Regions from separate parts of the Homo sapiens genome. Here all the other regions are linked to region 1. The links come from fine-mapping of genetic effects on gene expression. A gene starts in region 1. Each other region holds a variant in brackets. All regions are shown on one strand. Distances are between the middles of the regions.

Region 1 (8,110 bases):
GAAAAGAATACCTCAATACTGCTACACTTTCAAAAATGTTTAGAATCACATAAAAATTCACTTCAATAAAAGAATGCTTCTGCAGTTTGGGGATAAAAGTTTCTACCAAATAATCAGTCCCTAAAACGCTAAAACTAAAAATTTGCTACAAGAAACTTTTCATGTAATATTTAAAGATTTTTAGAATTACCAAAATTAAATGTAGATCTGTTTAACTCCTATCAATTTTAGGTATCACCACAAATATAACATTCTCTTAATGATGGTTTCTTAAGACTGGGCACATAGGCTCACGCCTGTAATGCCAGGATTTGGGGAGGCCAAGGCAGGTGACTGCTTGAGCCCAGGAGTTCCAGACCAGCCTGGGCAACATAGTGAAACCTGTCTCTACAAAATACAAAAACCTGTAGTCACAGCTACTCAGGAGGCTGAGATGGAAAAGATCACTTGAGCCCAGGGAGGTTGAAACTGCAGCAAGCCGAGACAGCGCCACTGCACTCCAGCCTGGGTGACACAGTGAGACCCTGTCTCCAAAAAAGAAAAGGTTTCTTAAAACATAATTTAACTGTAATCTTACTTGGTGATACATTACTTTTTTCTAGGAAGAAACAATAGGAAGGAAAAGAAAAAAAGAAAATGAGTAAAGAATGTCTCAAAGGGATCACATAAGTCTGAAAACCACTATCTTGAATTGTATATGGCAGAACTCTAGCAATATTAGGGAGTAGAGCGTCCCCAGCATTTACAGGTGTGCCAGAATATTGATCTCCCATCCCGGGAGTTTCATGAGGTGCTGCCTGCCAGGTGCTTCTAGCCTCCCAATCTCATCTACTTTAGTGTACTATTCAAAACTTACTTTCTATGTGGGCAGAACCTAAAAGATGGTTGAGACGCACTGACAGAATACATTAAAGCAGTTACTAGCTCAACTTTAAAATACATACTCTCCAATAAGAAATTCAAAGTCTACCCTTACTTGTTTTACTCATTACCAAGTAATGAAATCCCATGTTACATTTGTATAATATGGCATTTTAAAAAAAATACAGTTCCTCTTAGAGCTTAAGTAACTTCAGCAGCAGCAGCAACATCCTGGTGTGGGTTAGATAAATCTACTAAAAGCTTTTTGGGTTAAGGACATGGTCATTCCATGTTACAGCTTATTTTTTCCTAATCGAAATCCCCAAATGATCAATTTCCTAGTCTTCTTCCATGCTTTTTCTCCACTGCACTATCACCTTCTAATATAATAACACACTTGGCCGCGTGCAGTGGCTCACACCTGTAATCCTAGTACTTTGGGAGGCCGAGGCGAGTGGATCGCCTGAGGTCAGGAGTTCAAGACCAGCCTGGCCAACATGGCAAAACCCAGTCTCCACTAAAAACACAAAAAAAATTACCTGGGCGTGGTGGCCAGCGCCTGTAATCCCAGCTACTCAGGAGACTGAGTAGGAGAATTGCTAGAACCCTGGGAGCGGAGGTTGCAGTGAGCCAAGATGGCATCACTGCACTCCAGCCTGAGCAACACAGCGAGACTCCATCTCAACACAAAAAACAAGAACAAAACACAATTAACTTAAATATGCTGTTCTTATCTGTCTCTTCTTATGAGACTATTTATTATTAAATCCATGAGGGCAGAAATCTTGTCTGCTTTTGTTCATTGCTATAACCACAGCAACTAGATAAGTGTCTGACACATAGAGGTCCCCCAAAAGATAACTGGCTCAGTGAATAAACAAAGTTGATAATTTTATTGAAGATTTATGTATAATCTAGTTGTCTTAAAAGAGCCAAATGTTGCCATTAAGATAGTCAGGATATAAATTCTGTATAACAAAGATACAGAATAACCACACAGAAAGTAGGGTTGTCTTTCAAAAAGCTTGACATATATATTAAAATATTCTTAAAGATACTACCAGCAAATCTGCACTAGATATTTTAAAATACAAATAAAAAGGGAAAGACTTTTCAATAAATATAGGAAGCATCCGTTTTCCATTCCTCTAACCAGAAAACACAGAAGAATAGAGAGTGATAAGATTTCGATGGAACAAGGTGAAGGAAAAACTTAAAAGGGTGGTAAGAGTCTGAGATAGTAATACTTAGGGCACAGAAAAATGCACTATTGCACTGTCAATCAAGTATTTGTTTCCAATTCTTAAGACATCATGTAGGCCAGGCACGGTGGCTCACACCTGTAATCCCAGCACTTTGGGAGGCCAAGGCAGGCGGATCACCTGAGTTCGGGAGTTCAAGACCAGCCTGACCAACATGAAGAAACCCCGTCTCTACTGAAATACAAAATTAGCTGGGCGTGGTGGTTCATGCCTGTAATCCCAGCTACTCAGGAGGCTGAGGTGGGAGAATCGCTTGAACTCGGGAGGTGGAGGCTGCGGTGAGCCAAGATCGCCCCATTGCACTCCAGCCTGGGCAACAAGAGCGAAACTCCATCTCAAAAAAGAAAAAAGACACCATGTAAAGTTCAAGTTCAAGATTACCAACCTCTCTCTTACAAACAAATCTGCCTTTTCCAGATACTAAATCTAACGAGATGACACACTACGTTCTCTTGTCAAATACAAGTGTTGTGGATTTTAATCTTAATGTTTAGCCTCAAATAATGTTTTAATCTTAATACAGATAATAATCTTAAACTTGTCATAAAAAATGTTTTAATCTTAACACAGATAAAAATCTTTAAGTGGTAATGTAGCCTATTGCATCTACTGTTCAACTAGCATTCCACTGTTCCTTTTTTGGCCTCAAATGACGAAACTTCTCCAACGTCTCTGGGGAGACTAGTGTAAAGTATAATGTTTCCTGAAATTGTTCCTGTTTTTTCCCTGCACCATTCGTGATATCTCTTCAACTAGAAATGTTACATAAAACTTTTCTGTTCTGCAGGCAAGTCCAGAGGGAGAAGCAAGGTAAAGAGAATATTGTAAGGAAAACAGGTTGAAAGGGGAATAACATAAAAGCACAGGAGTAAATGTGAAGCAAAGCTATATTTGTACAAAAGAGGAAGAAGATGCAGAAAAGGGAAGAAAAACACTTTTAGCAGAGTAAAGAAAAAAAAATGGAGGAGGAACAGAGACTTGCTTCTTCCAGAAACAAAAGCAAAAAACACTTCTAAGAAAATGTGGTCTCTTTACCCAAGGGGATATTATGAAAACGCTAAAGGGTACTCAGCTGACACTCCTATTGAGCGTTCTACTTTCTCTTCCAATGCCTTTGATACCGCTAGTCTTCACCTGTGAATTAAATGCAGGCTACAGATAACGCACTCAATCCCTGCACAACTACAATTGTGGTTGCCATCTTTGCCTGGAAACAAAAAACAAAAAAACCCACAACTCCCTAGATTCGGGAAAAAGGAGTAAATTAAGTTGGAAAGCCAGAAAACCACGCCTTGCTAAGTCGGGGGGATATGGCACAGGTTAACAAACGCCTCCTACCAAACTAAGGTTCCACTAAAGGTCTGGGAATAAGGGCAAAGAGATGTATAGCCTTATCGCGACCGCAAGGGTGGGGCCTTGCAGTGGGAAACAAAATAGAAGGCAAGCTATCCCGAGAGGTTTAAGGGGGCTGAGGACTCGGCTCTCGGGAGATCGCCCATCAGGCGGTGGACACGGGGCAGCTTCGAGAGGAAGGAGACAGTGGACTGCTGGAGGAATGTCCGCGAGAATACCGAGGCTGATGGAAATAGAAGATACCCACGGGCACAGGATTAAGAGTCAAAGGGAAGAAGAGAGGGACGGGGCCGAGCAGTCTGGGGGGCCCGGCGTGGGAGGCCGGAGCAGAGGCCGCTAAGCGCCGTCCGCAGCCAGCCGCCTTCTCCGGAGACGCATTCTCGGCTCCCGCACACTCAGCCCCCCGCCGCCCCTGCCCCGGCAACAACCGCGGGCGCAGCTGTTTCCGTCGGGCCAGGGACAGCGGGGGTAAAGGCAACCCTGGGGCTGGCGGGCAGCAGACTGGCAGCGCCCGTGTGTGTGTGCGGGGAGCCGATTCTGAGACCGCCAACGCCAGACTTTGCCCTTTCTTCCCCAACCCTCCTTTATCACCCAACTTCCCGGCCGGCTGGTGTCCGCTTCGACCGACGGATACCGCACCCCCCACAACGCCTCTCGCCGCCTCTTACCCCTCCCCCGACGCCCTGAGCTGAGGGAAAACAGGCCACCCGGACCGATCCCGAACCCGCCCGGGTGTCCCCGAATCGCGGACGCCACCCCCGCCCGAACGCTGGCACTCTCTCGGCGGCTCCCTGGCCCGCCCAGATGCAGCAAACTCCTCTCACCTGCATTGACGCCATGATGGAACCATCCCCCCAAGACCGGCGAGGCCAGAGACGCAGGGGGAGGAGCTGCCGTGCTCGCGTCACGCCGCGGGGGCTCAACATCCCGGGCGCGGGGGCGGGGTCTGCGATGGGAAGGGGATGGAGCGAGGGGATTGGCTGGCGCGCAGGGCGGACGGGAGGAGGGGCTACGGGGCGGGGCGAGGGCGCGGTAAATGGCGCTCTGAGTACTTTCTGTCTCAGTCCGGCTGGCCGCTCACGCGTCGGGCCCCCATTTACTCTCGTTACTGAGGAGACACGGCTCCAGTTTTGACCCGACTACGGTTGTTTTCTTCGTGTGTACCGCGAAATGCTGATGACGTCCGGTTCCGCGCAGTTTTTTTCCTATTTCGTTTCCAACCACAGTTGTGCGGTTCACAGATTTTTCCCTTGGGATGTGTTTTCCATACCTCCAAGCCCACTCTCAGAGCCTTGGGGCCCCATAAAACTTCATGCGCAGCTGCTTTCTGGTATTTGCAGACCTGGAAGGCTTCTCGTATTCTTAATTTGGGGAAGAGAGACATAGGTTTCCTTGTACAACGGGATGAGGATTTAAGAGCAGAACGACACTGATATTTTAAAGGCGAGGGTATTTAGATTTGTGGAGCTGAAACTTGCCTGAAAAGGGAGACAAAATTTGGAAGTTTGTTGTGTGCAGTTTCTGCCCCTTACCCCCGCCCTTCACTTTTAAACTGCGCATATATCAACAATAGTTACGGTTGTTGCAGCAGTCTAAATTTGATTATCAGAATTGACCCTAGGCATGAATTTTTTTTTAAATATACCAATGTCGTGTTATATACACTTATACCATTATGTCCAGACTTCTCTTAAGCATAGTTCGTGGTGGGCAGTTTTGTGGTCATTTAGGGATGAACTTGGGTAGGGAAAGCTGAGCATACATAATTTATTTTAGGAATGCACCAGTTCTGCCAACATTTATCAGAAGTCACGTTTTTAAAAAGCTATTCTGGAACTGAAGATGTCATTGGTTTATAAGAGGAAAATGGAAGCCAAAAGCTTACACCTCATGCTCTATCTTTAAAAATTAAGGTGGCAGACACAATGAGTAGAAGGCTTTTATGTTACCAGAATGAAGGCTTAAAATCTGTCATTTTATTGACTCGGCTTTCTTTTTAGAAATTTCTTTAAGATATAAAAGCAATGTGGAATATCACTCTTTCACACTCTTAAAATAGATTACGTTCTCTGGAACTTCTCTAATCTGAAATGTGTTCAAAAAGGAAAAAGATCTTTAAAATACGCCAGTTAGTCTATGGTATAATATTAAACACTATTCATCACTAGAGAAGTTATGGTGGTATACCCTCCCCTTTCTCAGATGTCCACCTTAATGCCAGAAATGAGCGGAGTTTCCCTTTGTTGTGCAAAATGACTGTGTCCTTGAGGGATGTTTGGATGCTCTTGGTAAACCGGAATCAGCCAGAAGCATATCCGGTGTTAGCCTTGTTGTGTCATCAACATTACAACAGTGAGGAAACCCACATATTCCAATGAAAGAGGAAAACTTAAAGAAGAAGTTTCCAGTGTATTTTCTTTGAGATATATTTATTCCTATGACCTCAGAAGATCAGCTTTTACCGTCCAAGGTTCACTTTGCCTAAAAGCTGATTGTTCCTGTGGAAACAGTAGCATCGGATGACCCTACAAACAAAGCATTATGACATCATCAGAGCCAACAACCTGGCATGACAGATACTAATAAGGAAAAAAGAGGTTACAAGAATTCTGACACTCATCACAGTGGATCCAATATCTGGTCCCTTGGGTTTCATATATGTTAGAAGTATCTTCTCAGGAGGGAAAAGTCAATGCCAGTCATATCCTTTCTAGGTAATACTAAATAGCACATAATAACCTGTCTTCTTTTTTTTTTCTTTTTCTTTGAGACGGAGTCTCAGTCTCACCCAGGCTGGAGTGCAATGGCGCGATCTTGGCTCACTGCAACTTCTGCCTCCCAGGTTCAAGTGATTCGAGTAGGTGGGATTACAGGCGCACACCGCCACGCTCTGCTAATTTTTTGTAATTTTTTTGTATATTTTGTAGAGATGGGGGTTTCACCATGTTGGCCAGGCTGGTCTCGAAGTCCTGACCTCGTGATCCACCCGCCTCAGCCTCCCAAAGTGCTGGGATTACAGGTGTGAGCCACTGCGCCCGGCCATTCTTTTGTTAATATTTAATAAAAAGATCCTGACATAGGAGCCAAAACAGTGACTTACAGATGGTATGGGGGGTATATAATTATCTCCAGTGAGCATGTAATGTTAATATCTAAAACACTATTATGCCATGTTTGAAGACTAGGCTCATATTTCTACAGAGCGAGGCTTACTATCATTACTATCAGATAGGCAAAAGTTAAAATGTCTGACAGGATAATGCCAGTGCACTCCAGTCTAGGTGACAGAGCAAGACCCTGTTGTCTCAAAAAAAATATCTGACAATACCAAAAGTGAGAGAGGAAGTGGAGCTCTCATAAACTCTATAGGAGTGACACTAGTGCAATCACTTTGGAAAATAGTTCGGCAATAATGAAGTTAAAGTTTCCCATATCCTTACTGGATCTTCTTAATAGCATCATATGAGTTTTATATATATTTATATATATATTATAAATATATATATTTATATATAATATAAAATATATATATTATATATTTATATATATATTTATATATATATATATATTTTTTTTGAGACGGAGTCTCAGTCTGTCACCCAGGCTAGAGTGCGGTGGCGCGATCTTGGCCCACTGCAACTGCAGCCTGCCGGGCTCAGGTGATTCTCCTGCCTCAGCCTCCCTAGTAGCTGGGACTACAGGCATGTGCCACCACACCTGGCTAATTTTTTGTATTTTTAGTAGAGACGGGGTTTCATCATGTTGCCCAGGCTGGTCTCGAACTCCTGGCCTCAAGTGATCCACCTGCCTTGGCCTTCCAAAGTGCTGGCATTACAGGGATTACAGGCCATGCTTGGCCACGTAAGAGTACATTGAACAAATGCATATGTTAACATTGTTTGGATCTAGATTCAAACAAACTGTAAAAGAGATATTTTTGAGACACCTGGAGAAAATTAAATATAGAGTAGATATTAGAGGATATTAAGGAATTATTATTTTTGTTAGATTTGATAATGATGTTCACTTTTTCATTTCCACAGCTATTAGAAATGTCCATCAGCTTACGAGGAGATTCTCCCTCATCTCACAAACTACCTGCATCTCCACTTCCCTGGAAGAAAAAAAAAATCTGGACATACCCAAGCTGTGTATGTGCCTGAGATCTTCCCTTCCAAGGTAAAGAGAGAGCCTGAGACAGGTCTAAATTAGCATCTGGACTTTCTGCTAGTAAAGAAAAGGAAATATGGGAAACTAAATAGTAACATTAAAGGACCCACAAAGGGACTACTGGGTAAGTGCTATAATGGATAATGTAATGTGATTTATGAATGCTTTTGTTCTAGTGATTTATTAAACTGGGAAGTCAGAAGCAGTCCTGTGAACATTTGTTTGTTGAAGCATGAAAAGGCAGAATTGATGAGTCCTTGCTTGAGTCTATGCCTCCACCCAGTAGTTTGTTCTTAGTCTCCTAGGGGCTGATCTCAGCAGAGAAATGGAGACAGTTCAGTCACCAACAGTTTGTTACTGGATTTTGGAAAAGGTACCAAAGTAAGAATCCAAGGCTTGTATTCTTATCTTAGCTCTGTGATTAACAAGCTTAGGTAAGGCTTCTAATCTTTCTGGGTTTCTTT
Region 2 (8,110 bases), 28 kb after region 1:
TGGTCCCATGTTGAAGAAGTGATTGGTGACTAGGAGTCAGTGTCAAAACCTTTGAAGGCACATTTGAGCAACAACGGAGGTTTGAAAAGAGTGGCTGTCAGGCTAAGTGTACCTGGAGTTTATTGTTAAGTCCAATTTTGTCTGTTCTGTAGTTTTTGCTATAACCTCAAAGTTCAGGACCAGAATTATTCTGTTAGGAGTTGTACTTCTGCAAAAGTTTAACAGGTAACAGATACAAATTTTAAAAGGTAAAATATAAAGTAAAACTAATAGTGTTATGACAATCCCAGTTAGCATAATGGTTTTGAGCTATGAACTAGGCTTAAAAGCAACCAATTGAATGAATCAAACGACTGTTATCCTGTCAAGTGGAAAGGTAAGCATTAAGAGTCTCATGGGCCGGGCACACTGGCTCACACCTGTGATCCCAGCATTTTGTGAGGTTAAGGTGGGTGGATCGCTTGAGCCCAGGAGTTTGAGACCAGCCTGGGCAACATAAAGAAACCCCATCTTTTTTAAAAATAGAAAAATTAGCAGGGCCCGGTGGTGCACACCTGTAGTCTCAGCTACTTGGAGGCTGAGGTGGGAGGATCACCTGAGCCCAACAATCAGAGGTTGCAGTGAGCCAAGATCACGCCACATCACAGCATTCCAGCCTGGGCGACAGAATGAGACCCTGTCTCAAAAAAAAAAAAAAAAAAAAAAAAAAAAGAAAAGAACAAGAAAAAAGAAAAGAGTCTCATGATATGGAGTCTTGTTCTGACCTCTTGAGAAAAGCGGTCTATAGCATGAAAATATCCTGGTTTGCAGTATGAATATCTCTGATGATGGCATTGAGCAGTGTGGTGAACTTTTTATGTGGTCCATATATCAGTCATAAGACTTATTCTTAAAATTCATCTAGTTTTGAATTATGGGGCTTCGGGAACAGAAAAGTTCTGATTTTTAGTATTTTCTCTCTTTTTTTTTTTTTTTTTTTTGAGACAGAGTGTTGCTTTGTCTCCCAGGCTGGAGCAGTGGCGCAATCTCAGCTCACTGAAACCTCTGCCTCCTGGGCTTAAGTGATTCTTCTGCCTCAGCTTCCCAAGTAGCTGTTGGAATTATAGGCACACACCACCATGCCCTGCTAATTGCTTTTTTTTTTTTTTTTTTTAGTCAAGATGGGGTTTCACCATGTTGGCCAGGCTGGTCTTGAACTCTTGACCTCAAGTGATCCACCTGCCTTGGCCTCACAAAGTGCTGGGATTACAGGCGTGAACCACCACACCCGGCCCTGTTCTTAGTATTTTCATGGAAGAAAGTTGGATTGGAGGAATGTAGAAGAATTTAGAATCTACTCTTGGCTATAGGTAGATAATAAGAACTCAAAAACAATGCACAGGGCTACAATCTAATAACAGGTGTATTATAGTTTTTCTTTTAGAAATATTTCCTCTCTACATTGATCACATAGAAATGTCAGATTTAAAAACTTCTTGGGGCTAAGAAGCCAAAACCAAGGAAGACTTTAGATTTTCCTCCAGTGTGAAGGTTCCTGGGCCTGCCAGGAAGTGATAAGAGTTTACTCATGTCACTGTAAGGCTGAGAACTCTTGAAACCAGGTATTCTATTCACGCTTTTAAATACGATATTTTAGTCAAGGCATTGGTAATATAACCCATATTTCCAATGGTATCCTGTTATAAAGAGAGAACAGATTTTTACTGAACTTATGCAAATAACCATATTGCCATAAGAAAACTCACAAATAACTTCTGAATTTTGGAGGGATCAAGTAGGGAGAAAAAGCACATGCTTCCACCTTTGTTCACAAAAAGTATACTTTACCAAATTGCTGTAAACTATAGATAGCTTAAAAGAAAATTTATTTAAATCTGGAAAACAAAAAGTTTAAGTAAAAAACCAAGTTTTAAAATAAAAGTCATAAAAACATTATCTTCATCAGTTATTCAATTTCATGAAATTAATTTTTGTTTCCTTTGATCTTAATTAGCAGTTTTGTGAATTTATCAGAGTTTTGGAAAACTTTTATTTAGTCTATTGATCTTAAAGTTGTTAGAAACTTGTCTTAGGAATACTTGTTAGAATCTTTTCCATGAATCTGATTAGATGCCACTAGAGAAAAATCAAAACCATGGATGATAGAGACAGACTAGCCATGTTTAAAATCTGATGAACATTCATTATAATCAGCAATTGACAAGTAAATGTACTCATTTTTGAGACATACAACCTAATAACCAAAATTATGACTGATGATATACTAGACTTTTAAGAATTCTATATTACTCTAGAAAATTTATATCAATAATATACCCATAAATGTAACTGAAAAAAATCTAGTATGACTTATTATTTGACAGTAATAATGACTTTCTATAAATTTAATACATCAAACAAGCTTAATTATTTAACATCTCTACAAAATGAGAGATACATCCTTTATTTTATTTTTCTTCATTTTTCATACAGGGTGCCACCACAGGTAACCATCAGAGAACACACTGCTATTTTCAAATAAACAGAACTGAACAAAAGCATTTTAGCATGGTGTCTATGGTATCTTACTGTACATAGAAAACTGGTGAACATCTTCAGACACTAAGAGCAGGAAATAAAATGAGTGAATGCTATTTGTTGATACGTTTATGAATCACTCAATAGTGTTAATATAGGCTATCTTTACCTGAAAGCAAAACTACAATTACTGACTCTGGCAGCACTGGACAATTCTAAAATGCAGGTCTAATGAAAAGTAGGTACAACCAGCAAGCAAGCAAGGGACAGATGCCATGTCTGCTTCCAAAGGGCATGACTGATTGGGAACCAGGCTCTGCAGATTTTAAGAGTTGTTATAGTCATCTTAACAGCTTAATATTAAGTTTCCCTTACCTTGTATGTTGGCAATCAACAAAAGTGAGAATTTCTGAAATGAGCTAAATAGGATTAAAAAGCAGAACACTGTCCATATAACAGAATTGCTGCTTCACAACTTTTGCCCAGTTCTCACCTGTTGTCCTACAAAAACCTCTCATCTGATAAATTTTAGTGAAAACCTCTGCCAACTGTAACAGACTTTCTCAGCCCAGCTCTAGATACTTAGTATTTGAAACAAGGCTTGTGAAGTGGATGCATCCACAGGAAAATGCAGTGTTTCTACTGGAGGTAGGTGTCAAGTTTCCTTTTTATGTTGTCAAAGGAATCTGCTCCCATATAATCAGCCTGGCCCTGTTCCCACTGCTCCTTCCATTCTTCTGAGGATACAAAAGGCTGTGCCATAGCTGGGATCTCGCCAAGGGACAGATGTGATATGGCTCCAGAGACATCTTCCACATTTACATATGAGCAGGTGTCTTTGACAAGGCCAAATTGTTGAAGCAGAGGTAAAACGTTGCTGGTAAACATGTTCCACCATAGGATGAGAAACTCTGGATAAGTTATGTTGGGATCATGGGAATCACTTTTGACACTTTTTGTTTTGGGATCATATATATAATTCCATGGTTTGACTTGTCCCAGGAAATGCACAACTTTGGCACTTACACCAAACACTTTAAATGCTGGGAGATGGGAGTATATAGAGATGCTGCTTAGGTTATAAATAAATGGCAAGTGTTTTCTGATATCTGTTGTTGCCCAGCTGCTAAAAAATGTGTTCAGGCTGGGTGCAGTGGCTCATGCCTGTCATCCCAGCACTTTGGGAGGGCAAGGCGGGTGGATCACCTGAGGTCAGAAGTTCAAGACCAGCCTGGCCAACATGATGAAACCCAGTCTCTACACAAATACAAAATTTGGCCAGGCACGGTGTCTCACACCTGTAATCCCAGTGAGAGGTAAGGCCAGCTGGACTTCCTGGGTCAAGTGGGGACTTGGGGAACTTTCTTATCTTACAAGAGGATTGTAAAATGCACCAATCAGTGCTCTATAAAACGCACCAATGAGCACTCTGTAAAATGCACTAATCAGCACTCTGTAAAACGCACCAGTCAGCACTCTGTAAAATGCACCAATCAGCAGGATTCTAAAAGTAGCCAATCATGGGGAGGATTGGAAAAAGGGCACTCTGATAGGACAGAAATGGAACATGGGAGGGGACGATAACGGAATAAGGACTGGACACCCCAGCCAGCAGTGGCAACACACTTGGGTCCCCTTCCATGCTGTGGAAGCTTTGTTCTTTTGCTCTTCACAATAAATCTTGCTACCACTCACTCTTTGGGTCCGTGCCATCTTTAAGAGCTGTAACACACAGTGCGAAGGTCCACGGCTTCATTCTTGAAGTCAGTGAGACCACGAACCCACTGGCAGGAAACAACTCTGGACACATCTTGGGGGCTCGTCTGCGATGTTGCAATGCAATGGTCTGGGTACCATCGGACCCCTTTCACTTGCTATTCTGTCCTATTTTTCCTTAGAATTCAGGAGCTAAACACCGGGCACCTGTTGGCCAGTTAAAAGTGACTAGTGCGCTGCCAGACTAAAGACATGGGTTTCAGGCTATCTGGGAAAGGGCTCTTCAACAACCCCCGACTCTTCGGAATCAGGAGCGTTGGTTTGCCTGGAACCAGCTTCCACTTTTCCTGCACTTCTAGGCTGAGCTGAGGGTCAACAGAGAGGAAAGCCATT[C/T]AGCTCTGGGGTCCCAAGAAGAAGTTGGTTGTCCCTGCAGCCCTGAGCAGAGCTCTCAAAGTTACGTCACCCAAGTGAGACTCGCCTATCTATCCTATCTATCATGACCATTGCCTCCTGGGTCCTAACGCCTGTCAGACAAACTTCCTGTTGCCTCTCTTCTCTGAGGCTAGTCCTGCTTCTGAAAATCACTCCCTAGTTTCTTCTATAAGGATGATTTCTAATATAGATTTTGGGACTCTGTTCCCTTCTTTAGGCACCCAGGCTCACCAATCAGAAAGAACCCAAATTGTTCAATGGGAAATAAGCACCCTGGGGCACATAATTTTTGACCAGAGCCCCGTCAGGGGGGACTATCTGGAATACCGTCTATCCTTTTAGGATCCCTCCTCAGACTAGCAGAACTAACAAAGGCTATTCCCAAAGCTAGCATATGGGGAGCCTCAGAAATTATAGACTCCTAAATTGGGGGGATATGCTTCCTATTCATATGATGAGAAGTGAGAACAAAAGGCGTCACCCTTCCAACCCTGGAGATCCCTTCCCTCCCTCAAGTTATGGCCCTCCACTCCATTTTGAGGCATGTCATCTTTATAGGACAAGGGTAAGGTCCCAATAACAACAGGAAAAAACACTTAGGACTCTAACAGGTTTTCAAGAATGCATCAGTAAGGGCCACTAAATCTGACCTTTCTCAGTCCTCTTGTGGTCTAAGAGGAAAGGCAAGTGTACAGGTTTTCAAGAATGTGTCGGTAAGGGCCACTAAATCTGACCTTCCTCTTTGTAGGAGGAAAACAAGGGTTTCCACTGCTGCTTCAGTGAGCGCAACTATTCCAAACGGCAGGGTCCAGGGACTGTTGTGGGTTCTTGGGTGGGGGGAAAAACAGACAAAAACCACGGGTGGTTTTTTCTTTCTGTTTTAGATGGGAAACACTCAGGCATCAACAAGCTCACCCTTGAAATGCATCCTAAGCCATTGGCACCAATTTGGCCCATAAACCCTGAAAAAGAAGTGGCTTATTTTTGTCTGCACTACAGCCTGGCCCCAATATTTTCTCTCTGATGGGGAAAAATGGCCACCTGAGGGAAGTATAAATTACAATACTATCCTGCAGCTTGACCTTTTCTGTAAGAGGGAAAGCAAATGGAGTGAAATACCTTATGTCCAAACTTTCTTTTCATTGAAGGATAATCCACAACTACACAAAGCTTGCAATCTACATTCCACAGGAGGACCTCTCAGCTTACCCCTACATCCTAGCTTCCTTACAGGTCCCCTTCCTATTAATGATCAGCCTCCTCTAATCTCTCCCACCCAGAAGGAAACAAGCAAAGAAATCTCCAAGGGACCACAAAAACCCCTGGGCTATTGGTTATGTGCCCTTCAAGCTGTAGGGGGAGGGGAATTTTGCCCAACCCGGGTACACGTCCCCTTCTCCCTCTCTGATTTAAAGCAGATCAAGGTAGATCTGGGGAAGTTTTCAGATGATCCTGATAGGTATATAGATGTCCTACAGGGTCTAGGGCAAACCTTTGACCTTACTTGGAGAGATAACATGCTACTGTCAGATCAAACCCTGGCCTTTAATGAAAAGAATGCGGCTTTAGCTGCAGCCTGACAGTTTGAAGATACCTGGTATCTTAGTCGAGTAAATGATAGAATGACAGCTGAAGAAAGGGACAAATTCCCTACCGATCAGCAAGCCGTCCCCAGTATGAATCCCCACTGGGACCTTGACTCAGATCATGGGGACTGGATTTGCAAACATCTGTTGACCTGTGTTCTAGAAGGACTAAGAAGAATTAGGAAAAAGCCCATGAATTATTCAATGATGTCCGCCATAACTCAGAGAAAGGAAGAAAATCCTACTGCCTTTCTCGAGTGGCTATGGGAGGCCTTAAGAAAATATACTTCCCTGTCACCCGACTCCCTCAAGGGTCAATTGATCCTAAAAAATAAGTTTATTACCCAATCAACCACAGATATCAGGAGAAAGCTACAAAAGCTAGCCCTGGGCCCTGAACAAAATTTGGAGGAATTATTAAACCTGGCAACCTCAGTGTTCTATAACAAGGACCAAAAGGAACAGGCCGAAAAGGAAAAGCAAGATAAGAGAAAGGCTGCAGCCTTAGTCATGGCCCTCTGACAAACAAACATTGGTGGTTCAGACAGGACAGAAAATGGAGCAGGCCAATCACCCAGTAGGGCTTGTTATCAGTGTGGTTTGAAGGGACACTTTAAAAAAGATTCTCCAATGAGAAACAAGCCACCCCCTCACCCATGTCCAGTATGTTAAGGCAATCACTAGAAGGCACACTGCCCCAGAGGACAAGTGTTCTCTGGGCCCGAAGCCCCCAACCAGATGATCCAACAACAGGACTGAAGGTAACTGGGGCAAGTGCCAGCTCATGTCATCACCCTCACTGAGCCCTGGGTAAGTTTAACCATTGAGGGCCAGGAAATTGACTTCCTCTCGGACACTGTCACAGCCTTCTCAGTGTTAATCTCCTGACCCGGACAGCTGTCCTCACAGTCCGTTACCATCTGAGGAATCCTGGGACAGTCTGTAACCAGGTATTTCTCCCACCTCCTTGGTTGTAATTGGAAGACTTTGCTCTTTTCACATGCCTTTCTTTTTATGCCTGAAAGTCCCACACCCTTATTAGGCCAAAGCTGGAGCTATTAGCTACATGAATATGGGGGACAAGTTACCCATTAGTTGTCCCCTACTGGAGGAGGGAATCAACCCTGAAGTCTGGGCATTGGAAGGACAATTTGGAAAGGCAAAAAATGCCCCCCACCCCAGTTCAAATCAGGCTAAAAGACCTCACCACTTTTCCTTATCAAAGGCAATACCCTTCCGGCCTGAAGCTCATAAAGGATTACAGGATATTGTTGACATTTAAAAGCTCAAGGGTTAGTAAGGAATGCAGCAGTTCCTGCAACCCCAATTTTAGGAGCACAAAAACTGAATGGTCAGTGGAGACTAGTGCAAGATCTTAGACTCATTTATGAGGCAGTAATTCCTCTATGTCCAGCTGTACCCAACCCCTATACCCTACTCTCTCAAACACCAGAGGAAGGAGAATGGTTCACTGTTCTGGACCTCAAGGATACCTTCTTCTGCATTCCCCTGCACTCTGACTCCCAGTTTCTCTTTGCATTTGAGGATCCCACAGACCACACATCCCAACTTATGTGGACGGTCTTTCTTCAAGGGTTTAGGGAAAGCTCTCATCTGTTTGGTCAGGCACTGGCCCAAGATCTAGGCTACTTCTCAAGTCCAGGCACTCTGGTCCTTCAGTGTGTGGATGATTTACATTTGGCTACCAGTTCGGAAGCCTCATGCCAGCAGGCTACTCTAGATCTCTTGAACTTTCTAGCTAATCAAGGGTACAAGGTGTCTAAATCAAAGGCCCAGATCTGCCTACAAGTCAAATATCTAGGCCTAATCTTAGCCAGAGGAACCAGGGCCCTCAGCAA
Region 3 (8,110 bases), 72 kb before region 1:
AAACTGTTTCAAAATCTTAAACTGGTAATTATTTTACTGAGCTGCACTTTTTTGCCTATTTTGTTTTTTATCCTTAAGTAACTTTCATAAACGGTTTATTTTTAATAAGCTATAAACATTTCAAAATTTTTTCAAACTTTATAACGATAGTGCTTTAAAGTTAAAGAAGCTGTACATTTTCATATAATTGAATGTTTAATTTCTTTGTGATTCCTTTTAAATTCAGAAATTCTTCCTTTCTCCAGAGAGCTGATACCCAACATTGAAAAAAAACATTTTTTTGGTTATATTTTAAAAATAGGCCAGGCGCAGTGGCTCACGCCTGTAATCCCAGCACTTTGGGAGGCTGAGGCAGGCGATCACCCTGAGGTCAGGAGTTCGAGACCAGCCTGGCCAACATGGCAAAACCCGTCTCTACTAAAAATACAAAAATTGGCCGGGTGTGGAGGCTCATGCCTGTAATCCCAGCACTTTGGGAGGCCGAGGTGGGTGGATCACGAGGTCAGGAGATCAAGACCATCCTGGCTAACACAGTGAAACCCCGTCTCTACTAAAAATACAAAAAATTAGCCGAGCGAGGTGGCGGGCGCCTGTAGTCCCAGCTACGCGGGAGGCTGAGGCAGGAGAATGGTGTGAACCCTGGGAGGTGGAGCTTGCAGTGAGCCGAAGTTGCGAAACTGCACTCCAGCCTGGGCGACAGCAAGACTCCGTCTCAAAATAAATAAATAAATAAACAAAAATAAAAATAAAAATACAAAAATCAGCTGGGCATGGTGGCGCGCCTGTAATCCCAGCTACTAGGGAGGCTGAGGGCAGGAGAATTGCTTGAACCCAGGAGGCAGAGGATGCAGTGAGCCTAGATCACGCCACTGCACTCCAGCCTGGGCAACAGAGCGAGACTTCATCTCAAAAAATAAATAAAAAATAAATAAATACAAATACTGAACCCACAAGAAATATTTTATGCAGTGAAAATATTCCTTCTCCAAAGGATTACAGATTTTCCAAGATGATTACTTACTAAATAATCCTTCCCCTTATCACTGATTTGTAATGCCTTATCATATATTCAAATGTTATATTCAACTGGGCCTAAATAAGAGGAACTGTATTTCAATGATCTGTTCTTCTATTAGTATTTTTAGTGTCCTGTCTGGTAGATTAATTCTCCATTACCTTTATGGCTCAAAATTCAAACTTTGTTCTTCTCATCTACTATTTTTTTCCCAAACTTTTCAAACACCTATCTCCCTTCCCACCCCCACAATCATTCACTGGATTTGTAATGAACTCCATCGAACCTACAGTTTGTAAAATACACGTATTTTTATTTCACAGCTCTTAAAGTTTTGCCATTTTCTTCTTCTTCTAAGTCATATGTATTTCTTATTGATATTACCCCAAATTTTCACATTTCTGTCTCTCAGGAACAGCATATTTCTTTGTTTTCTTTTTTCTTTTCTTTTTTTTTTTTTTTGAGACGGAGGCTTGCTCTGTCGCCCAGGCTGGAGTGCAGTGGCGCGATCTCCGCTCACTATGAGCTCCGCCTCCTGGGTTCATGCCATTCTCCTGACTCGGCCTCCCGAGTAACTGGGACTACAGGCGCCTGCCACCACGCCCGGCTAATTTTTTGTATTTTTAGTAGAGACAGGGTTTCACCGTGTTAGCCAGGATGGTCTCAATCTCCTGGTCTCGTGATCCACCCACCTCAGCCTCCCAAAGTGCTGGGATTACAGGCATGAGCCACCACGCCCGGCCACTTCTTTGTGTTTTCTAATTTTTAACTACTGGCATAGTTCTATTGCACTGACTCGGGTCATCTTTTCGTTCAACACCTGGGGAACTTTTAAGTTTTTAATTCACTCAATTTAGGTGAGGATACAGAAGGCTTCACACTGGATAGAAGATACGGGGAGAAGGTCATAGTTCAATTAGTTTTTGCTAGTTCTAATTTATTATCAGGTTAACATTAAAAAAAAAAAAAAACCCACACACATAAAAAACCCCAAAGGCAATACTCTTATGTATACAAAAATCACAGGGGATGGTTTTTGTTTACTTGCTTCAAAAACTACATTGAAGAATACAGACTTTTTGTTTTTAATTTCAAATAACTCTTCAGGGAAGCATTAAGGTTAGTTTAGAAATACTAGCAGCTCTGAATTATCATTACCATCCCAACAAATACAATAGAAATTTAAAATTAGAGAGTACTTTATTAATACAACTACAATCAGCAGAATCTCACTTTTTTTTTTTTAAGGGATAATGATTAGAATAGAGAGCTTTCTAATTTAATGAGGTACCCCTTACTGTGACTCCCGCCTCCTCCCGGCCATGAATACTACCAGAACTAAATGAACAAACAAGGCATCAAAACTTCTATTTCAAACAACAGACTTCCCAGTAACTAGTTCTTTTTTTTTTTTCCTTTGGAGATAGAGTCTCATTCCATCACTGTCACCCAGGCTGGAGTAGAGTAGCGTGATCTCAGCTCACTTCAACCTTCGCCACCAGGGTTCAAGTGATTCTCATGCATCAGCCTCCAGTGGAATTAGCTGCAAGCCACCACGCCCATCTAATTTTTGTACTTTTAGTAGAGACGAAGTTTCACCATGTTGACCAAGCTAGTCTTGAACTCCTGACCTCAAGTGATCTGCCCACCTCTGCCTCCCAAAGTGCTGGGATTACAGGCGTAGGCCACCATGCCTGGGCTCCCAGTAAATAGTTCTAATTTGATCTAAAGATTATTAACAACTTCTTTTCTGTAATACAATGGTAGAGTCTCCGAATGTCAAAGTAATTTTACATTTTACTTTTATGATGGCTATGATTTTGTTTGCCCCATTAAAAATCTGGTGTAGTGCTGGGCGTGGTGGCTCACGCCTGTAATCCCAGAACTTTGGGATGCCCAGGTGGGCAGATCACCTGAGGTCAGGAGTTCAAGACCAGACTCATCAACACACAGAAACCCCATCTCTACTAAAAATACAAAATTAGCTGGGTGTGGTTGCACATGCCTGTAATCTCAGCTACTTGGGAAGCTGAGGAAGGACAATCGCTTGAACCCAAGAGGCAGAGGTTGTGGTGAGCCAAGAATAACACCATTGCACTCCAGCCTGGGCAACAAGAGCAAAACTCCATCTCAAAAAAAAAAAAAAAAACAAAAAAAACTAGGGTAATTCATCCATTAAATATATTAGAATATTTTAAAGAATTTTCTTCATATAACATAAATATAACACCAATTATAGCTTCTCTTCTTTTTCCCAAGTCTTATAGCAAATATATATAATCTTCATATCAAAATGCTAAAAAGTTATTACAAATTCAAACTGCTTACCATGATACCACCATTTTGTTTTCTTTGGATTCTTGTTACATGTTCGCACATAAAAAGAATTATCCGGTGGTCGTCTCTGAAACAAAAAATAATTTAAATAGGTTGAAAAACAGAAAAACTGAGAGGGTGACAGTTTTAATAAAAGCTTAAGAAAAATTAACAGAATGCATAAAAAACAATATAAACATGAATAGTATATCTAAAAGAATAAAAACTATAAATGTATTCCAGGAAATGTGTATGCTTAACACCTAAATTTAAAAAAGGAATAATAAGCGTGTTTGAGTGTGGTCTGTGTTAGGTTCTAGCCTGGCCAACATGGTGAAACCCAGTCTCTACTAAAAATACAAAAAAATTAGCTGGGCATGGTGGTGCGTGCCTGTAATCCCAGCTACTTGGGAGGCTGAGGCAGGAGAATTGATTGAACCCGGGAGGCAGAGGTTGCAGTGAGCCAAGATTGTGACATTGCACTCCAGCCTGACAACAGAGCGAGACTCTCGTCTCAAAACAAACAAACAAAAAATTAAATAAATTATAAAGGGAATGAAAAAGGACTGATGAGAAAAGTCAAATTCACATAATAATTTAAACATAGCCGGGCGCAGTGGTGGGCATCTGTAATCTCAGGTACTTGGAAGGCTGAAGCAGGAGAATTGCTTGAACCCAGAAGGTGGAGGTTGCAGTGAGCCGAGATGGTGCCACTGCACTCCAGCTTGGGTGACAGAGTGAGACTCCATCTCAAAAAATAAATAAATAATAAAACAAAGGGCCAGGCGCGGTGGCTCACGCCTGTAATCCCAGCACTTTGGGAGGCCGAGGCGGGTGGATCACGAGGCCAGGAGATCGAGACCATCCTGGCTAACACGGTGAAACCCTGTCTGCTAAAAATACAAAAAAAAAAAAAAAAAAAATTAGCCGGGCGTGTTGGCGGGCGCCTGTAGTCCCAGCTAACTCAGGAGGCTGAGGCAGGAGAATGGCGTGAGACTGGGAGGCGGAGCTTGCAATGAGCCGAGATTGCGCCACTGCACTCCAGCCTGCGTGACAGAACCAGACTTCGTCTCAAAACAAAACAGAAAAGTCTACTAAACTAGATTTGTTGGGAGAAGTATAGCAATGTACAAACCTCCACAAAGAACTGTTTTTACTGTAATAGAATACCATCAAAGATAGACCAGAAGATTCAGTTTCTAAACAATATTTAAGAGAAAAAATGGGAAAAATATATATTGGCATTTCTACTATAATTGGCCTTTCTGCTGAACATATGCCCTGACTAGAACAATATATGAGAAATATATGGCAGCTCCGCAAGGGAGCTACCGCAGATAAAGTGATGCCAACAACACTGAAGATATATTATGGAAGAGACTTTTCCTGAAATTTGTTGCATACTGCCTAGACAAAAGAAAATGTTACCCTCTACAAAGACTTGGAAACATCAAATTTATATTAAAGCTATATTAAAGTTTATAGATACTATGATAGATATCCTTATCCTTTAGTCTCCTTTATGCCTTTCGGAATCATTCCAATAACTTGATTATTTTCCTATCATTAAATATTGTATAGTGTATATGCAGGATTTATTTTCAGACTTAAATCTGCTTAGC[T/C]AAGCTAATGAAAATGAGAGATTAAGGGAATCCTCTCCTCTACCTGAGGCTAATGAAAATAAGTGAATTTGGTATGACATCATTTAAGGAAAGTCTAACCAGAAAGCAATCGTGAGTAGGACTCTGTGATAGCAGGAAGGAAAACAGTTAGTCCATTTGGCACTTCTAAAACTCATATATGTAACTATCAGTCTAGTTGAGCCTCACAATGCTCTTATGTGTTAATATTAGTAATTTCATTTAACAAAAAGAAACATTAGAGCATAAGACAGTCAAGACATTTAGGTATTCCAAGTCAATCTGTGGACACAATTTGAGAAAATTCCTAAAAAATGAATATTATGAAATTAGATGCCTGACTACTTCAAGGAAGGGATGATTCTACAAAGTTAAATCTATGTTCATATGGAATTGGTACTACTAGAGCAGATACTTTCACAAACTCATTTTATGTATATGTTGATTAGAACCCAAGAATCATCAGAAAAGTCTTCAAAAAATACATATTTAGAAAAAAGAAATACTCAATTCTATTTGCTTAAATCATTTATCTCCCTGACAAATGATCAGGGAGATACAGTTCTTGGAAAAGAAACTATACAAAAGAAGTCTTACGAAATTGTTTTAGGAATGGGATACAAACTGAAAAGTTTGAACAATGTAAATATATTACAAAGGCATGCAAATAAAGTGGAATTTACTGAAAGTCCTGTGATCTCAATATCAGAAATTATCTTTAATCCACTACAATCTAATGACATACTGGATTTAAATACCTTCAGTTTATGGAACCACTCCTGACTGTGTAAAAGGAAATTGGAATAGAAGAATTATGACTAAAGTCCCAAACACCTAAAGTAAAATATTTAATAGTAGTAGAATTAACAAAGTAAAGCCCATAGAACCATGTCCACTACGGAATAAAATTTACCCGTTTTAATAATAATAAAACGTGTAGATGGGTATTTAAAATACTTTTCTTTTTTCTTTTTTGAGACAGAGTCTTGCTCTATTACCCAGGTTGGAGTGCAGTGGCGTGATATCAGCTTACTGCAACTTCAGCCTCTGGGTTTAAGCAAGTCTTGTGCATCAACCTCCCAAGTAGCTGGGACTACAGGCATGCGCCACCACGCCCAGCTAATTTTTCTATTTTTAGTAAACAGGGTTTAGCCATTTTGCCTAGGCTGCTCTTGAACTCCTGGCCTCAAGTGCTCCACCCTTCTCGGCCTCCCAAAGTAGTAGGATTACAGGCGTGAGCCACTGCACCTGGCCTAAAACACTTTTTAAGGTTTCTTTGGAGCTTAGATCTCTCTAATGCCAGATCGTCTCAATGCCAAGGCAAATTTCCTCTTCATCTTTGTAACTTATCACTTAGCACAGTAAAAGTAGCACATACTAGGTACCTAGTAAATGTTTTTTGAATTTTATCGTATTTCATGGAAATCTTGATTTCTGTATTATCATCTTGGTTAAATATTATACAACTATTACAGTAAAAACATAGTTTATTAGTGCTTTAAATGGAATGATTAGTCTTATACTAAGTGTACAAGAAACACTAGTAGCAGACAACTAGAATGTAAGGGGAATGGTGAGGGTTAGAGGAAGATGAAGGAAGTACACAGAATATAGTCATTCTCTAGTTTTTAATAATAAATCATTATATTTAAATGTAAATAAAATCTAATAATCATGAGGCACATGCAAGACTATGTACAGATATCGCTGACATTAATCTCTTAATAACTTTCTTATTAAATACTGTTGTTACCGTCTCACCTTTCTATAGTCTTTAAGCGTAACAGGAACATAGAAGGCCTTGTACCCACAAACTGCTTTGCCCTACACATAAAAGTTTAAAACGTGTGTGTGTGTTGGGGGTGGGTGAGAGGAGAAAATATAACAGCAATAAGCAACAAATGAGTAAAAAAACAAAACAAAACCAATTTAACCTATTATTTCACATGCTGTGGCTTAGAGTGCTTCAGATTCTAAATAACCTATCATTAAAAAATGAACTATTATCTTAAAAGTTCTCCAAATACTAATTTAATAAAAATGACAATCAGTTCAATTTGGAGAAAAGGAAAGAAAACTGTAAAACACAAATAACTCCCTAACCTCTAGGGCAAAGCTGTTTCTCCTTTAAACAGAATGCAAAAGGAAAACCCTCATAGGGATTTAAGAGGGGTTTTAAAATGTAGAAATACATAAATGTTATGCTATACTAACCCTTAAGCAGGAATGACAAGAGTGTCAGAAGTGTACAGAGGATTCAGATACATTTAAAGGGTATCCTAAATTTATATGTATATTTTAAATTTATTTCATTATTATTTTCTTGAGATGGAGTCTCGCTCTGTCACCCAGGCTGTAGTGTAGTGGCATGATCTTGGCTCACTGCAACCTCCTGGGTTCAAGCAATTCTCCTACCTCAGTCTCCTGAGTAGCTGGGATTACAGGCATATACCATCACACCCAGTTAATTTTTGTATTTTTAGTAGAGACAGGGTTTCACCATGTTGGCCAGCTGGTCTCGAACTCCTGACCGCAGGTGATTCACCTGCCTAGGCCTTCTAAAGTGCTGGGATTACAGGTGTAAGCCACCGTGCCCAGCCTACATTTTAAGTTTAATTAAGTGATTTTTTTTCTTTTTGTTTTTTTTCCCCCCACTTCCATCAGACATAGAATCTGTGGATTAATAAAGGAGAACAGGAAGAAACGCCCTGAAAATTCGACTGGTAAACTGGTCTTCCTCCTTCAACCTAATCATTAGGACAGGGAAGCTCTGGTTCCTGAAAAATTCCCTGAAACAGGTTGATCGGGTGGGAGCTGGCAGAGGGGAGAAGGAAGCTATGATGCACTTTTCTGAGGCTTTCCACTGTGAAATCTACAAAAAGAATTTCTTGTATACTTTTACCTGTGCATGCTTTTGGGAATAAAATCAGCTTTAAGAAAATACCGTACATTTCCTGTTTAAAAGAATATAAAACAGTAAGTCTGGCTTCTACCCCATTCAACATGTAAAACTTCTATTTGGAATGAAAGGTATCAAAATAACTTTCCAATTTATTACTAAACATGAAATTCCCTATAATTTTCAAATAAAAAGCATAAATCCTTCCTCCAAATAAAAATAATTACATATTAAAATTAT
Region 4 (8,110 bases), 85 kb before region 1:
AACAGACGAGGCATGGTGGCTTGCACCTGTAATCCCAGCATTTTGGGAGGCTGAGGCAGGAGGAATGCTTGAGCCCAGGAATTCAAGATCAGCCTGGGCAACATGGTGAGACCTCGTGTCTTTAAAAAAAAAAAAAAAAAAAAAAAAAAAAAAAAAAATTCTATCCATCCAGGCATGGTGGCACACACCTGTAGACTCAGCTACCCGGGAGGCAGGAGGATTGCTTGAGCCAAGGTGGTCAAGGCTGCAATGACTGTTCCACTGCACACTCCAGCCTGGGCAACAGAGGAAGACCGTCTCAAAAAACAAAAAACAACCCACACACAATTTATGTTGAGAAAGCAAGTCTCCCACAAATTATTTTTAAAAAATGATTCCAGGCTGGGTGTGGTGGGTCATGCCTGTAATCGCAGCACTTTGGGAGGCTGAGGTGGGCAGATCACTTGAAGTCAGGAGTTCAACACCAGCCTGGCCAACACGGTGAAACCTTGTCTCTACTAAAAATTAGTCAGGTGTGGCAGCACATGCCTGTAATCCCAGCTACTCAAGAGGCTGAGGCAGGAGAATCGCTTAGACCCAGGAGGTGGAGATTGAAATGAGCCAAGATCGTGCACTGCACTAAAGCCCGGGTGACAGAGCAAGACTCCGTCTCAAAAATAAATAAATAAATAAATAATAAAAATAATCATTCCACATCTCAAAATGACTTAGAAATTTAAATGGAAAAAATAAATAATTTGCTTGGACAATAATTTGGCTTTGGGAGAGTCCTCATCCGAAAATAACAAAATTTCCTTAATATTAGTACTAAAGAACTAATTACAGCTAACAGCTCATTTACCAAGTAGTCAATTATTCAACAAATTTAGCCATCTACTGACAAACTGAAATTAGTATCAGAAACTCCATGTATTTTATTTGTAGGAGAGCATTTTAAATTTTTCAAAAATTCATGGCATAATTTTAATAATCGTCCTTCTGTAGAATCCCTAACCTCAGAAAAAAAAAAGAGAGAATAAATTAGAAGTGAGAAAAGGAAACTGCGGAAGACTGACACATTGGACATCAGTGGGAAGAGGCAGAAAAATAGGAAGAAAAATAAAGGACAGATTTAAAACAATTTAAAAAGGACTACAAAGAGGATTGGGGCCAGTTGGTGCAGATTAAAAGACACCTTCTTCACAGACCTCAATCATGCACAGGCAGTAACGGCATTACTATAACACAGAACAGTATAGTAGCTGATTCTGATAATGAATCCTCAGAAAAGAAGAATATGGTTAAGCTTCAGTTCTTTTTGAAAAGCAATTTACATACACAATTACAAATAATTGTAAATTTTAAGCATTCAGCTAAGATATGTACAAAAAAATTAATGAAAGTGAGATCAAGAAATATAAGCAGCAGTAACCATAAAGGCTTAGAACTAGTGACACTGAATTCTTTATTTAAAAAAATTTTTGTAACACACAGTACCTCCTCTTCTCTTCTATTTTTAGGAAGAAGTTATAACAAGTTTTAAATATCTCAATTCTGAAAAACAATAGGCTTTTAAAAAATAAGACTTGATTACCAGAAACAAGTAATATGTAGTTACATAACCATTTTCATATCACTACTCATTTCCATTATTTACCAATTCATCTTTGATGCAACTTGGAAACAATTAAGCAGTCACTAGACACCTGTTTTAGAATCTGAAGAAATTATTATCCACCACAGGAATCTAATGATATATATATTTGCATATATTTAAAATTTCATGAGGGAAAAGGTAATAAACTATTCTAGTTATTTTATACCAAATATTGATATTCCTAGTCAAAACAACAAGGAATTAAGATCTTTCTCCAGGTGAACTGCTGACTATATAGAAGCTATTTCCAGCACTTTCTTCTGGGGATTAAAAATGATTTATTTCCCTGCTGGCTAAAATGATAAATTATATATTACAAGTAAGTCCTTCAGAAGTGAATATTAATTCCTTAAGAGAACCATAAAATGTATTTTTAAAAAATTCTCTTAAAAACTGAAAACAATCCTTCTCTCTAAACCTATGGCATTAATCCCTACTTGACCAAAGAAAAAAAAAAAAAAGAAGGGCATCATGTTCATGATCTAAGCATGCATAAATAAGGAAGCAAATGTATCACTGTCTTAATAGAATTTGGCAAACCAGAAGAATGGCCTAAAAATAAATAAATAAATAAATAAAAGAAGAAGAGTGTACCTTATCTTCTAAGTATGAAAGTCTAATTCTGTAGGCCTATGTCGCAAATAGTGCCCCACGAGGAAATGCAGGGAGGAGGCAAGTAGCATATTCCTATATACATTTTCTTGATATTCTGGTTGTCTTTCAACAATGCATTACAGAGAAATATTCTTTTTATTATTACAAGCCATTAATTGCTCTCTGTAGAGCAATGACTCAGATAAATGCCTTATGACTTTTAATAATGTAACTAACATATAAATTAAATCTAAGTGCAAGGAGTTTTCAATGATTCCTAAATTCAAGAGAGTGTTGTTAGCCTGATTATGAATTTTAAATGTCTGTGCTCCTATATTTTAGGATATTTCATCTTATTTTCTACTCTTTAAACCATAAGATGTACCGAAATTATTTCATTTTCCTCTACTTTCCTCTGTGTCATTTTAGTTTACTTTATGGTATTTATATGTAGAGAGAGAGGTATGTTAAAATATTGTCATAAAAAACTCAATTGAGGCTATATATGACCTATTACTCTATAGTATAGCATTGTTAATCTTTGACTCAGTATATTAATTCCTTTGGTGAATAAATGTCACCGGTCATTTCTTTATAAAAGCATTTTGGTAAGAGAACCAGCAATATGGAGACAGATTTCTCCCTAACCCCCAGAAGAAGATCAAGTCAAACAGTAGTGTAGAGCAGTTACGCAAAATATGAAAATACATAATTTACAGCTGCAATTTTCATATTAAAAGCAGTTTAAAACTATGAGTAATTCAAAGACTTTCTGTCTTGGTTAAACAGGCCAACTAATAAAACTGACAGAGATCATTGTGAGAATTTATCTAGTCAAGATAGAACAAAAACGGTTATAATTTTTTAAAAGTGGTAATTGTTAACTAGCAGTATATAAACAGTGTCCACAATTTGGTGGCTGGCCACGGTTTTAATTTTTTTTTTCAAGTTATTTCTATAGCAGACATATTTTTGAAGTCTACCCACCCCTGAGTTCAGCAATTATACTTTGAGTGTAAAATTATATGCCCTTAATTAACAACATGTACAAAGCTACAAAATGTCATCTATACAGATTAAAAACAATTTTAAAATATTATTTACCAATTATTGATTGAATGGTTTTACTGGGGTACGTATTTCAAACCTTTCAGCCAACTGGCTTTCAGTTTTAAGCCCAAATTGATTCATATATTCACTGCAGGATATTTCAAAAAGAGTGCAACAATAAGGCATTAGTAAAAATAACATTGTAGTAGAAACAGATTTTGCATATGTGAAAAGGTAATTTATAAAATACATTAATCACTTTTTAAAAAGAACTTAGTTGTAGTATCATTAACTCACATGGTACTGAGAACTGGACCTTTCAACAATTTTTTTTTTCTATAGAAAGTTTCATCTAGCTGTAAGCAAAGTCTTTTCAACAACAACAAAACAAAACCCTCCAGGAAAAACTATATGGCTGTGTGAGACAAATAAGCAACCATTTGATAGTGACTTTTGCCTAAATTTTAAAATAAAAATGTCCACACTCTTTTGTTAAAACATTAAGCCTCTGTCAAAAATGTATTTCTTATTTTAGGGTACAGGATTAAAGGACAAGATGATACTCACAAGTAAAGAAAATTTACAAGAAAAAACTTAACAAAAGTTTCAATAAAAGTATTGTAACATTCAAACTTGACTTATAACAAAAGAAACAAGATTGCAAACAAAAATGTTTACGGGGTTTCCAAACATAAATAAATGAAATAGTGTTTAGGCAGTAGGGCTCATGCTGATGGCTAGCAGGAAGTTAACAGAGTGTAACTTACTTGGAAAAAATCTTTAATGTACAAATAACAAGCCCAAATTATGGACTGCAGCAATTTAATCATCACTGCCATTTTTCTTACTTCCAAAATAAAGCCTTGATTAAACCATTCATACCCTATATTACTCATACCTTTACTTCAGAGATTGAGGAACTATATACAACAAATTAATTTATTTTCACCATAGGGATAACATACTGTACCTCTCTGCCAATGTTACTTGAAAATCTTCCATGTCAAAACAACTTGACAGTAGATATAAACAATTCAATAAATATGCAATGATCTTTCATTACAGTCCTTTAAAGACGCATGTTAATTCATGCTGTTAACCTTAGGATCACAGTGCATAGAATCCAAATATAAACAGTTGGGGTGACTTTTAAAGTAATGTTGGATCCCTCACTTTATTTATATTCCCACTATAACCAGTAAGTTCATTTCATAGGCCCTATCATGCATTAATCATTGAATGGCAGGAGTTAATGAAAACTTTTCCTGTTACAACGCCCATTGCCGGCAATGAACGTACCAAAACCGCCAAGGAAGTCATTGTTATTGCACAATACATGAGGACCTGGAGCTTTTCCAAAAGCTTAAAAAAATAAAAATAAAAAATGGAATTATATTTGACATTTCCTGACACCTGCATTAATACTGTATGACTAATAAAAGCATGTCAGTTGCCTGGACTGAACCAGCGATCAACATGCGCCCAGAATGCACACGAGTAAAAATGCAGTAAAAGGAAGTAGTCTTCATTGCCTATAGGTCACTTCCAGTCAAAGGTTAAAGTTCAAAGACTGAATGATCAAAGTGCTCATTTTCTCAGTAGGACTATCTTCTGCTAGGAGGATGATAACAGTGGCATCAACAAGTATCAT[CT/C]TTAAGAAAAGGAGAAAAAAGATAATTAAAAAGTCAAGCATGTATAAGTAAATTCTACAAGTCTGTTTAATGTAGAAATAATTTCAATTAGCAAGAAGTACATAGTTTACATGTCTGATCTGCCTCCCCCAAACCTGTGAATACAAAGTGCAATATATGTTCAATTATACAGTGACAAATTTTTATTCTTTCAGAGAAATAGTTCACATAAACCTTAAAATGATATGTTATTAGCACATTCTATTTAAAATAATAAACTGACATGACATGTTAGTACATAGTCAGGATGTATCAATCTTAAGAGAATTATTTTATGGGCAACAAGTTCACATTGTAATGAGACAGAAGTAAACTCCTGATCAACAGTGCCATGCTATTTAACACAGAATAATACACAATTTGTCTTTAGACTGTGAAGGAAGTAACTGTTCTTTACCAATGAGATACAATCTCCAAATCAATAAACAGTTAAGATTAATTTCCCTTTAGAAAATAAGTTTTCAGGCCGGACACGGTGGCTCACACCTGTAATCCCAGCACTTTGGGAGGCCGAGGCGGGCGGATCACTTGAGGTCAGGTGTTTTGAGACCAGCCTGGCCAACATGGTGAAACCCTCCCTCTACTAAAAATACAAAAATTAGCTGGGCGTCGTGGCACACATCGGTAGTCTCAGCTACTCAGGAGGCTGAGGCAAGGGAATCGCTTCAACCTGAGAGGCAGAGGGAGGCTCTGTCTCATAAAAAAAAAAAAAAAGAAAAAAAAAAAAAGAAAATAAGCTTTCAGCAAGTATAGATACATATGCAAATGGGGTCATTAAAAAACTCATGAAATTATTTAATAATAACTTCTGGTAGCCTCAACACATATATATGTAACACAGACAACTTTAGGATTATTTATTTTACAAAATTTATTTCACAAAACATATCTGAAAGATTTATTCTGAGGATGAGTTATTCTTCAGAAGGAAGCTACATAAAGAAACTAAGACTGGTGGCCAAGAGTTGTGAAAGCACTCAAGGAAAAAATTCTGAAATCCTAGTCAAAATATTTTACAGACTGATATGGTTTGGATATCTGCCCCTTCAAATCTCATGTTGAAATGAGTGATCCCCCATGTTGGAGAGGGGCCTAATGGGGAGGTGTTCGGGTCATGGGGGCAGATCCCTCAGGAATGGTTTGGTGCCCTCCTTGCAGTCATTAGTTCACATGAGATCTGGCTGTTAAAGGGGCTGGGACCTCCTTCCTGTCTCTTGCTCCCTTCTATTGCCATGTGACTTGCCTGCTCTCCCTTCACCCTTCCACCATGAGTAAAAGCTTCCTGAGGCCTCACCAGAAGCAAATGCCAGCACTATGCTTCTCTACAGTCTTCCAAACTGTGAGCCAAATAAACTTCTCTTCTCATAAATTAGTCTCAGGTACTTCTTCAGAGCAACACAAAACAGATTAATACACTATCTCATGTTAGAATTGATATACTGCTAATTAAAAACCAGTAAAATCTGACTTCTAAGCTGGGCAAACTCATAGAGTATTCCATGATCCAGTAATTTCAAGGGGGAAACAGACTGGAGTTTAAAAATAAATCATCCCTAATTCATTAGACGCCTTAAAATAAATAAGAATAGTATCTTTAAGAAAACAAGTAGTTTATATCCTCTAAAGTTCACTCACAATTTTCTTGGCAATGCAAAGTGGCTCACGCCTGTAATTCCAGCATTTGGGGAGGCTGAGGTGGATGGACTGCTTGGGCCCAGGAGTTCAAGACCAGCCTAGGCAATACGGCAAAATGTTGCCTCTACAAAAAATACAAAAATTAGCCTGGCATGGTAGTGCATGCCTGTAGTCCCAGCTACTTGGGAGGCTGAGGCTGAGGTGGGAGGATCGCTTGAGTCTCAGAGGTTGAGGCTGCAGTGAGCCGTGATCCCTAGCCAACACCATCTCCAAAAAAAAAAAAAAAAAAAAAAAGGGGGATGTTCTTTAAATTATTGTGGTACTTGAAACAGACAGAGAAGATATACTTGTTATGGATATAAAACAAACTTAGGAATATTAATAAGTTCCTTAAAACATCGCTTCTGCAATAGAGTAACAATAGGGTTGGTCGCTGAAACTAACACTAAAACTAATCATACTCAAATCTCTAAGCTAAAAGATGGCACTAAAATTCTACCTAATATGTCAAACTACTGGGGATAAATTTTAAGGTGATACAAGATAACAATATATACAATAAGAAAAGTGACAGATAAAATTCAATTTGAACATAATGTTATCCAGTTAACTACCAATAAACTTGTATCTCCAAAGACATACCATCTTTGACAGGTGGTAGCACAAATGCATCTTTATTTACTAACTTGTTCATTGCAGAAGGTTTTTAGTATAGTAGGTTTTCTGTAGAACGTGCTACCAAAATGATTAGGAAATCTTTGTGAAGCTACTTTCCAGATCCCAATCCCTGTTTCTGACTGATATGATACTACCCACCTTTGAATACCCTCGTTTTGAAGAAACAAATGATCTGTAACAGCTAGATCAACAGGGACTTGCGGGACTACGAATCCATGATGGCTATATGTAATCAAGAGTTTATAAGCAAACTTTAAGTATAGATACAACTATGAGCCAAAGCCATCGCCATCCTTTTTCTAAATAGGATGGCCATAACTAAGAAGCAAAAAACTTATCCGTTACTAGAAAGAACATAGTTTGCTAGCCAGATGAAAGTATTATTGGATACCAGGACAAACTCACCCCCCAACCAAAAATAAATAAATAAAAAATAAAAAAAATCAGAGTAACCCATTTTGGGTCAAGACAAATACAGGCTGACAAAAGGTGGTAAAAGAATGGTATATTTAATCTCTTGGTTAAAGCATTTGTAACAAGATAATGGCCTGAAGAAAAATCTAATTATTAACCATTTATATTTTTCCTGGAAATTCAGAAGCCTCTACTAAAATTACACTTTCAAATATAACATACAAGCTGCCAGTTTCAAAGAGGTGACACCTACCATGGCTAACTTCACTGGGCTTCTGAGAAATGTAAATGAGAAAGAACTATATTAGAAGAAGGTCATTTAGTTTTCTCCTGAGAATAAAAACTATCATATAGTTTTCCAACTATCATGGAAACCCATCTCCTTGGATATCCCCAGGGACAGAAGACTAGA

Which allele goes with the higher level. Positions count from the first base shown, and alleles are read on the strand shown. Sizes are in standard deviations (SD) of each study's normalised expression. Not every link is listed here.
In carriers of allele T in region 2, the expression in lung of the gene that starts at base 4,355 in region 1 tends to be higher than with C alone (small effect, 0.37 SD a copy in GTEx).

Evidence for each region. PIP is the estimated chance that this variant, and not a neighbour inherited with it, causes the effect. A credible set is the group of variants that fine-mapping cannot tell apart.
Region 2: its variant is the best candidate, but not a certain one, in a credible set for the expression of UBE2W in lung (GTEx, PIP 0.51).
Region 3: its variant is the best candidate, but not a certain one, in a credible set for the expression of UBE2W in whole blood (INTERVAL, PIP 0.75).
Region 4: its variant is the best candidate, but not a certain one, in a credible set for the expression of UBE2W in thyroid (GTEx, PIP 0.74).

The regions. Positions count from the first base shown.
Region 1 is chr8:73,874,508-73,882,617 of GRCh38, forward strand. It overlaps UBE2W (ubiquitin conjugating enzyme E2 W), which reads right to left and starts at 4,355. Exons shown (of 6, transcript NM_018299.6): 1 at 4,301-4,355. The coding sequence starts at 4,315. LINC01617 (long intergenic non-protein coding RNA 1617) reads left to right here and starts at 4,475. Exons shown (of 3, transcript NR_147034.1): 1 at 4,475-6,190; 2 at 7,520-7,655; 3 at 7,823-8,110. RefSeq lists enhancers at 3,038-3,087, 3,564-4,441 and silencers at 3,828-4,087, 4,108-4,157, 4,298-4,587.
Region 2 is chr8:73,902,198-73,910,307 of GRCh38, forward strand. It overlaps the pseudogene GYG1P1. Among named protein-coding and RNA genes, the nearest start is that of LINC01617, 27 kb to the left of the region's middle. The variant C/T (reference allele first, on the strand shown) is at 4,627.
Region 3 is chr8:73,802,308-73,810,417 of GRCh38, forward strand. It overlaps UBE2W (ubiquitin conjugating enzyme E2 W), which reads right to left. Exons shown (of 6, transcript NM_018299.6): 5 at 3,344-3,419. Among named protein-coding and RNA genes, the nearest start is that of STAU2, 60 kb to the left of the region's middle. The variant T/C (reference allele first, on the strand shown) is at 4,954.
Region 4 is chr8:73,789,185-73,797,294 of GRCh38, forward strand. It overlaps UBE2W (ubiquitin conjugating enzyme E2 W), which reads right to left. Exons shown (of 6, transcript NM_018299.6): 6 at 1-4,931. The coding sequence ends at 4,918. Among named protein-coding and RNA genes, the nearest start is that of STAU2, 46 kb to the left of the region's middle. The variant CT/C (reference allele first, on the strand shown) is at 4,932.